2 separate regions of the Homo sapiens genome follow, and region 1 is linked to region 2. Evidence: fine-mapped expression QTL. A gene starts in region 2. The other region holds a variant in brackets. All regions are shown on one strand. Distances are from middle to middle.

Evidence for each region.
Region 1: its variant is fine-mapped to the expression of PDGFRL in fibroblasts (GTEx, PIP 0.98).

The regions. Positions count from the first base shown.
Region 1 is chr8:17,606,707-17,611,094 of GRCh38, reverse strand. The region is part of intron 2 of PDGFRL (platelet derived growth factor receptor like); the gene reads right to left. LOC107986919 (a long non-coding RNA gene) reads left to right here. Exons shown (of 2, transcript XR_001745819.2): 1 at 1-55. Among named protein-coding and RNA genes, the nearest start is that of PDGFRL, 32 kb to the right of the region's middle. The variant C/T (reference allele first, on the strand shown) is at 2,220.
Region 2 is chr8:17,574,941-17,579,328 of GRCh38, reverse strand. PDGFRL (platelet derived growth factor receptor like) reads right to left here and starts at 2,113. Exons shown (of 6, transcript NM_001372073.1): 1 at 2,022-2,113. The coding sequence starts at 2,076. RefSeq lists silencers at 1,708-1,757, 1,848-1,907.

The DNA of each region.
Region 1 (4,388 bases), 32 kb before region 2:
GGCATGCCTCCCACTGCGTACCGCAAAAGAAACATGAGTTGACTGTTTTAAATACGTAAGTAAGTCCTAACCAAATGAATGACTTGGAGGAAATTTACAGATGATTACTTTCCAGATAGGCACTCACCATGTAGAGAAATGCATGGAAATAACAACGAAATCATCAATTCTCGTGTAATTTTTTTTGAGACGGAATCTCACTGTCCCCCAGGCTGGAGTGCAGTGGTGTGATCTCGGCTCACTGCAACCTCTGCCTCCTGGGTTCAAGGGAATCTCCCGCCTCAGCCTCCTGAGTACCTGAGACTATAGGCATGCGCCACCAGGCCCGGCTAATTTTTGTGTGTTTAGTAGTGACGGGGTTTCACCATACTGGCCAGGCTGCTCTTTAGCTCCCGAGCTCAAGGGATCCTGCCACCTTGGCCTCCCAAAGTGCTCGGATTACAGGTGTGAGCCACCGCGCCTGGCCCTTCTCATGTAAATTTGACAAGGTCATCTTTCAAACTTTGTGACCATATAACTCAGATGTATATGGGTTACTCACACTACAGGTTGAGAATCCCTTATCCAAAATGCTTGGAACCAGAGGGGTTTGGACTTCAGATTTTTCTCAGATTTTGGAGTATCTGCATCATACTTACTAGTTAAGCATCCCTAATTTGAAAATCTGAAATCTGAAATGCTCCAGTAAGCATTTCCTTTGAATGTCATATTGCTCAAAAAGTTTCAGATTTTGTAGCATTTCGGATTCCGGATTTATGGATTAGGATGCCCAACCCTTACTATAAATCTGGCAATTCTAATCTTACCATGTAGCAGAAGCTCATCAGCACTTCTCTGTGGGTAACATCAGAAAAACATGCCCCAGCTCTGCTCAGCTGAACGCTCACAGCCACATACTTGGGAAGAATCGGCCCTGGAAGATGAGTGAGGACAGAGGACAAAGGAGCAAGCCTCTGCCACCCTTGCTAGGAGAACAAGCTGTGAATTACTAATGGGCAGGCGTGCAGGCACAGTGAGTGTATTATGGCCAAGTCAGAATAGTGAATGCAACAGCCATGGGGCCTGGACCCATTTGCACCCAGCACAGTGAATTCACTGCGGGGAAATCCACCAAATCTCCCTCCTGCCAACGTTTTCAAGGTAATCGCTCATAACAATGCCACTTTGATGGTAAATCTTCTGAGTAACATCAGAAACCTAAATAAACAAACTGTTTTCTTGGTGTAGAGACTACAGAGATCTTGGGAATATGGCTTGATTTGAGTTTACTTTACTAAAAGCTGTGCAACATGAGCAAGTCTCTTAGGCTCTGTGGCTCAATCTAGTCACTTTTTAAAACGTAGGGTTCAAGCCACATCAGTGGTTCTCCAACCTGGCTGCATATCACAATCTTTTGGGGGAGGTTTGATGCTGTTCTCTTTGGCTCTTATTTTTTTTTTTTTTTTTTTTTTTTTTTTTTTACAGAGTCTCACTCTGTCACCCAGGCTGGAGTGCAGTGGCGTGATCTCAGCTCACTGCAACCTCCACCTCCCAGGTTCAAGCGATTCTCCTGCTTTAGCCTCCTGAGTAGCTAGGATTACAGGTGCACGCCACCACACCCAGGTAATTTTTTTTTTTTTCCAGACAGAGTCTCGCTCTGTCGCCCAGGTCGGAGTGCAGTGGTGCAATCTCAGCTCACTGCAACCTGCGCCTCCCAAGTAACTGGGACTACAGGTGCCCACTACCACACCTGGCTAAATTTTGTATTTTTAGTAGACATAGGGTTTCATCATGTTGGCCAGGCTGGTCTTGAATTCCCAAACTCAGGTGATCCACCAGCCTCAGCCACCCAAAGTGGTGGCATTACAGGAATGAGCCACTGTGCCCAGCTGGCTCCTATTTTATTATCACTATTTGAGACAGTCTTGCTCTGTCACCCAGGCTGGAGTGCAGCAGTGTGACCATGGCTCACTGTAGCCTCAACCACCCACCCCAGCCTCCCAAGCAGCCAGGACCACAGGGTGTAGCACTATATCCAGCTAAAACTTTTTGTTTGTTTTTAAGAGATGGGGTCTCACTATTTTGCTCAGGCTGGTCTCAAACTCCCGGGCTCAAGTGATCCTCCTGCCTCAGTCTGCCAAAGTGCTGGGATTACAGGCATGAGCTGCCTTGCCTGGCCCCTCCTTGGCTCTGCTTTGTACAAGTCTCTATCTTATCTTCAAGGCCTGGTCTCCAACAAT[C/T]AGGTCATCACTTACACAATGATTCCATTTGCCTCACCAACGCCTGCTCACAGCTGCCTTCTCTCCTTCCTATCAGCCGCTCCACACTCACACTTGACCACACACTGTCTTCTGTTGCTCTGTCCTTGTATCTGGTTTGTCTTTTATCTCACTAGTTCTTAAGCTGCTTGTCGTTGGGACTATTTCTGTCTTTTTTCCCCCCTCATAAGCATTCTGACTTAGTAGACTGCCTTTATATATACATTAAGCAAACGTTAATGCTATTTAGCGTGCATTCTCCTCAGCAGACCAACACTGAACTGAAGGCTGTGACACACTCGCTCTGGTCACCCCTCCGGCTCTTGTATGGGACAGTGCCTCCCTCTGCCTCCTTCCCCAGGATGCCTACCAGCTGATGTGATATATTGTGCCAATGCACGAGCCACCTGGGTAAATAAACGCATGAGGGCACGTTCAACATTGATTCACTTGTATCAATGTTGGTTGACTCACAGGGCCCCCAACCCCCTACCTTTTCCCAGCTATGAAGTCAAGTTCACAAACAACAGTGCTGTTACAGGGAAGGGTGAGCTGGTGCTTTCTGACCTCTGCTCCAATGTAACTGAGACACCAGATCTCATCTGGGATCTAGGCAGTGGGATGGAGAGAGAGGAGTGCTTTGGACAGTAGGATGTGGTCTGAAAGGCAGAGACCAGGGGCAAATCAGGATGAACTCCCAAAGGCAATCCAAGCAAAGTCTTTGAGCAGGAAGGCACCAAGCGAGGCAGGAGACAGGCCCCTGAGGCCCCAGGACAGAGTGGACAAGTTGGGAATGCAGGACGGGAAGTGACAAGAGAAGGTTCTGGGCGGACTCCCCAGGGCAGCAACTTAGCAGCTGCCCACCTGCAGCCGGCTGTGTGGGTGGGACGGAGCCGCCAAGGCAGCCAAGCCCGGACACTGGAGGCAAACCTCTGACATCTTCGTTTTGCTTTTTTATAAATGTGCCATTCTACACAATTATACACTAGTGGACATAAAATTTCCCATTTTACATCTTATCCTTTATTCCTCTTTTCTTGCTCCCTCCTTTGACATATCTTTCAAAGCTGTTTTATTTACATCTTCTATATTCAAATACTTGGCCAAAAATCATGCTACTAACACACCAGTGTTTACATTTGAGCATTAAATCCCAGACGTCACCCACATGTATACTTACTTGTTAAAGCAACATTTCACTCATAAAATACATGCAATCACTGGTACTATAAACAATGCTCCATCTTGCAAGATGCCCCAAAATTATCATCTAACATAGTTGGTGATATTCCTACAGTGTCTTTGGTTTAACGCACTAGCTTGACTGTATTGTCATTTTCTTACTGTATTTTAATTCTGTGCAACACATCTGGGATAATCAATCCTAGACTTACCAGAAATGCTCAAGAAATGAAATGTTTTGTTGAAAGAAACTTTTTTTGTTGTTTTTTTAAATACATATTTGGTGTAGGTAGAAACATTATTTTTAAGTAAGAGTTAGCAGAAGACGTTTTCCCCAAAACTATAGAACGTGCTTCAACCAATTTCCCCTACTCTAATGACTAGATCGACGAGCAATGGGTGATCTAGAGAACCTTGGGACCATTAGTATGAGCATCAGTGAGCCCTCCACAGTGCTATGGACACAAAGAGTTTGTAGGGGATTGAGACACACGTCTAAAACGTTTCTTAAAACGAAACTCGCAGGCCAAGGCAGGTGGATCACTTGAGGTCAGGAGTTTGAGACCAGCCTGGCCAACATGAGGAAACCCCATTTCCAATCAAAATACAAAAATTAGCAGGGCATGGTGGCATGCACCTGTAATCCCAGCTACTCAGGAGCCTGAGGCAGGAGAATTGCTTGAACCTGGGAGGTGGAGGTTGCAGTGAGCCCAGATTGCACCACTGCACTCCAGCCTGGGTGACAGAGCAAGACTCCGTCTCAAAAAAAAAAAAAAAAAAACAAAAAAACAAAAAACGAAAAACTGGCTGTTTCTTATGATTTACCTCCTTTGGGTACAGTATGGTGAACAGAAATAGCTCACCGATATTTAGGTGGCTTACTATGTGTGCCAAGAGGTTTACACGCATGACCTCATTCTATCCTGAGAACAGCACAATGAGCCTCGTTCTATTATTACCTGCCCCCCA
Region 2 (4,388 bases):
ACCAAAAACCATTCTTAATAGGTTTAGCCAAACGGTTACATAACTTAATGAAGCACTGTGTGTTCACTATTGTATCCATAAATAGTCCATACATTATAGATATGTGTGCTTTTATTTTTATCTTTATTTTCTTGAGATGGAGTCTCACTTTGTCGCCCAGCTGGAGTGCAGTGGTGCGATCTCGGCTCACTGCAACCTCTGCCTCCCAGGTTCAAGCAGTTCTCTGCCTCACCCTCCCAAGTAGCTGGGATTACACGTGCCCACCACCACGCCCGGCTAATTTTTATATTTTTAGTAGAGACGGGGTTTCACCATCTTGGCCAGGCTGGTCTTGAACTCCTGACCTTGTGATCCACCTGCCTTGGCCTCCCAAAGTGCTGGGATTACAGGCATGAGCCACTGTGCCCGGCCAGATGTGTGTACTTTTATAAACAAAATCTTCGTGCTATTATCACCTAAAATTTATGAACTATTTCTTACATTCAGTCTGTATTCCACTTTCTCCAATTGTCTCATAAATGCTTATTGTTTGTATGGATTACACTTAAAGAAAGGGTAAATTTAGTCAGATGTTTGTAATAAACTCACATGGGCTGGGTGAGATCCAGGAGGCAGAATGGAAGTCAATTTCTGAGCCTCTAAGACTGGCAAGTTGGGTATAAACAAAGGAATGGCTGATTTGAAATTATTTTGCCTGGCCATCTCCTGCCCTATTCAAAAAATGATACTACAAATTACATTTCTGCCTTTTCAGCGGTTGCACACAAGGGCCTGCCAGGAGCATTTTAATATTGCATTTTACAAACTGAACTCATGGCAACTTCTCTCTGGGCAGAGTTAAGTGTTACTCTCCCAGTAGAAGCTCTGCCTACGTTTTATTAAGCAAAGCTCTAGGCTGAAGGACCCTCATGCTCAACTTCAAGTACCACGACTATCTTGGATTTTGCAAACTACAATGCGGTATTTTTTTGGCAAATGTAGTTTCCTAGGAAAGAAAGGAACTGGTCAGGATGAACGAGTGGATAAAAATGTGAGCCAGGTCGAGCTGGCTCCAGCATGAAGTTGCATAACAGCAAAAGCTACTTTTCCACTAAATCTAAGCAAAAATTGTGTTGTAGCCCAGGAATTTCAAGAGAGGGTTGAGGACACCAGGAGGCACCCAGATGAAACATGTACTGTACAAATAACACCCATGGAGTGAATAGAGCAAACAAAACATTTAAATGCTAACAATAATATATAATACACACCACAGTAATACACACACCCAGACACACAGAAAAATAACACCAGACCCTGTGGTCACGGGTGTACACGACAGGGTGGACCCAGGACAGGTACACATTCAAAAACGCGCAGCGGTCATGGTCCCATAAGCTGTACCAAAAAAATGCATTTTCTTCACCATTTCCCATCCAATTAGATAAATATAATAAGCCGTGGGCTTTTGATTCGTTTTGAAGTTTCATACACTGACATTTTTGTTCGAAGATCTAGGCAGATCTTGCAGGATTCAAGCAAAAGGTGGTAGACGAAAACACGCCCAGAACTGCGAGGGGAGGGGGAGGTCACCTGGAACTCTGCAACCGAATCAGCGATTGCCGAGCTTAGGTGGCACTCGCTCTCAGCAGCAGAGGTCCCAGCCACGCCGCTGGGAGGTGGAAGCGATCCGAGGCTCCCGCCCCACCTCCCAGACCGACACGTTGACACTGGGGGCTGGACCAGGCGCTGGCTGGGGATGCTTGGTTCGCCCGGAGATGGGGACTTGGAGAGGTCCTGGTGGGCTCCTAAGGGTCGGGGTAGCTGCCACCACCCCTAGAGGGCTCTCCGGGCAGGCAAAGAGTGGGAGGAAAGGAGACCCCACCAGGAGGGGGCAGGTGCACCGGGCAGGCAGTGGCGCGGGGGCTGAGCCACCGAGGGCCGAACGTTAGACCAAGAGCTGGCAGGAGGGCGGCGGGGGCTTCGGGTCCCGGCTAAAGTCAGGGCACAAGCTAGGTGGCCCCGCGCCCAGAGTCACTCACCATCCTCCAGCGCTTCGTGCACCAGCAGAAGACCAAGCAGCAGCCAGACCTTCATCTCGGGAACCTCGGACCTCGGAGCGCAGGAGCGCGGCGGCTGCGCGGGGCGGGGACGCAGGGGAGGCGGCGGGCGAGGGGCGGGCTCCTGGGACGCCGAAGCGGGAGGATTCGGTTTCTTCAGGAGGAACAAGGTTTGGGGGAAAAAGTTGGGGAATTTTTTTTTTTTTTAGTTCTCTGTGTAATGTGACTTCTCCTGCCCCCTGGCGGAGCCGCGGTGCGCAGCACTTCTTCCCAGCGCGGGGAGGAAAGGCTAAGCGTGAAATGTACATTACAACAGCCATTCCTTGAATTTCTCCAACGCTTGGCGTTTTCACCAAGGTTATCAAGTTCAAGAAGGATCAGCGGGTGCTGATGGGGTCACTTTTAACCACGATTGTCCAAATGTTACCAGCGCCCGCCCCACCTCCTCAGGCAGAACCTGAGTGCTCTGTAAAAAGTGCTTCCTAAATTATTTCTGTTCATTCCATTTCTCTCCCCCACATGCACTCACTCACAGGACCGTTGCCCCGGGTTCTTGCTGCTCCTCTGTGTCTGGCCAGAGTTGGTCTCCGCACCCAGCCCTGTAACTGCTGGTGGGGGTGGGAGGACGGGTTCATTACAGGAATAACGTGGAAAATGAGACTGTGCAGACAACCCGGGCCTCTGGTGGTGAGGCAGGAGAACAGGGAATTAGGGTAAGCACGGGCTAGGGTATGAGCAGGAGAACAGCAGGTGCAGCCAGTTCGCAGAAGCAAAAGATCAGCAGGTGCAGACAGTTCTAGGCATGATTAGGCGGCACACAGGCCACATCCTCGCTCCTCTGATAACAAGGCAGAAGTTTCCACTTCAGCCTCGGACTGGTCGCAGGCCAGTCCTTCGTAAGGTGTAACCAGTTGGAGGCCTCTAAAGGGAACCCAAGGGTGTTGCCAAGTTCTTTTCGCTTTATAAAATCCCTGGGGAGCGTCAGGCTCTTGTGGCTTGCTGCAGCGCCCTCTGTGAATTGTCTTCTATAAATCTACGTTTTCCTTCCTCCCTTCTGTTGCTTTGTTTTTCCTTGCTTCTTTCTTTCGTTACTCCGTGCATTTCGTTCAATTTTTTGTTCAACAGGCCAAGAACCTGGACAACTCTATCAGGTAACAGTGGGGCAGAAGATACGGGCTTTCACAAGTCCCTCTGCAGAGAGCCATCCTGCGTTTCTGAGCTTGCAGACTCTCATGATCAAAGCAGTTTGCTAGCGGGGGAGATGCCTGTGTGTGTTCCCCCGGTGAGAAGCAGCCCATCTCATTGTAATCTTCAGCACCAGGCACTGCTATTAAAGGGAGCTCAATTCTAAATAACAGGAAAGGGACTTGTCCCTCAACACCCAACGAAAGAAGTGCTGCCATTTATAACAAACTAATGCTTCTCAGTCACTTCTGCAGGAGGAACCAAGAATTCTATATTCTGTTGCCAGCTCTAGCCGGAGCTTTGCCACTCGCTTGCCTTGCGATGCAGAGAGCAGTTGGCTGGGAATAAAGACCAGAGTTCAGATGCTGACACTGGCACAAACTCTCCATGCCTCTCAGAATTCACTTAACCTTCTGGGTTTTAGCATCTCTTGTTTATTAAGAAAGGGAACTAGGTGATTATTTCAACAGGAGTTTGCTATGTGATTAACATTACGGCTATGAAGGTTGAGACATCATCTCTCATGGCTACTTTTAAGGAGTGAACAAGCATTTAGACCACTGCAATGTGGTGTGTCAGGTTCTGGGGAGAATTCTGAGCAAAGGACTTGGAGCATGCACACAGGAGAGAGTAAATCTGCCTAAATTGCCCCACCGTGAGATTTCTTTTCATTCTGACCCCATGAATTGACTGCTTAACTCTCACTCCATGTTGGAGCCTGGGGTTGGGTCTAGATTCCTCCTCTCGGTCGCAGTATCCCCTCCATGCTGACTATGCATGTGCCAGGTCCACCTCTCTTGTGCCATTATTGTCAAGCTTCACTGCCCTGGCTCAGCTACATTTAGCCGAGAGTCGTCCCTCTTTCTCTTGCCGCTTAGAGGCTCTTCTTGGGGGGCTGAGGCGAGAGAGTCATTTGAGCCTGGGAAGCGAGGTTGCAGTGAGCTGAGATGGCACCACTGCACTCCAGCCTGGGCGACAGAGAGAGACTGTCTCAAAATAAATAAATAATAAATAAATAAATAAAAGCAAAGAAGAGAGGCCTCAGAGAATACCCATTCTTCTGCCACCTTGCTCTCAGATTTCTGCCATTCAGAACTATAAGAGAATACATTTCTGTTCTTTAAACCACGCACTCTGTGGTTCTTTGCTATGGTAGCCCCAGCA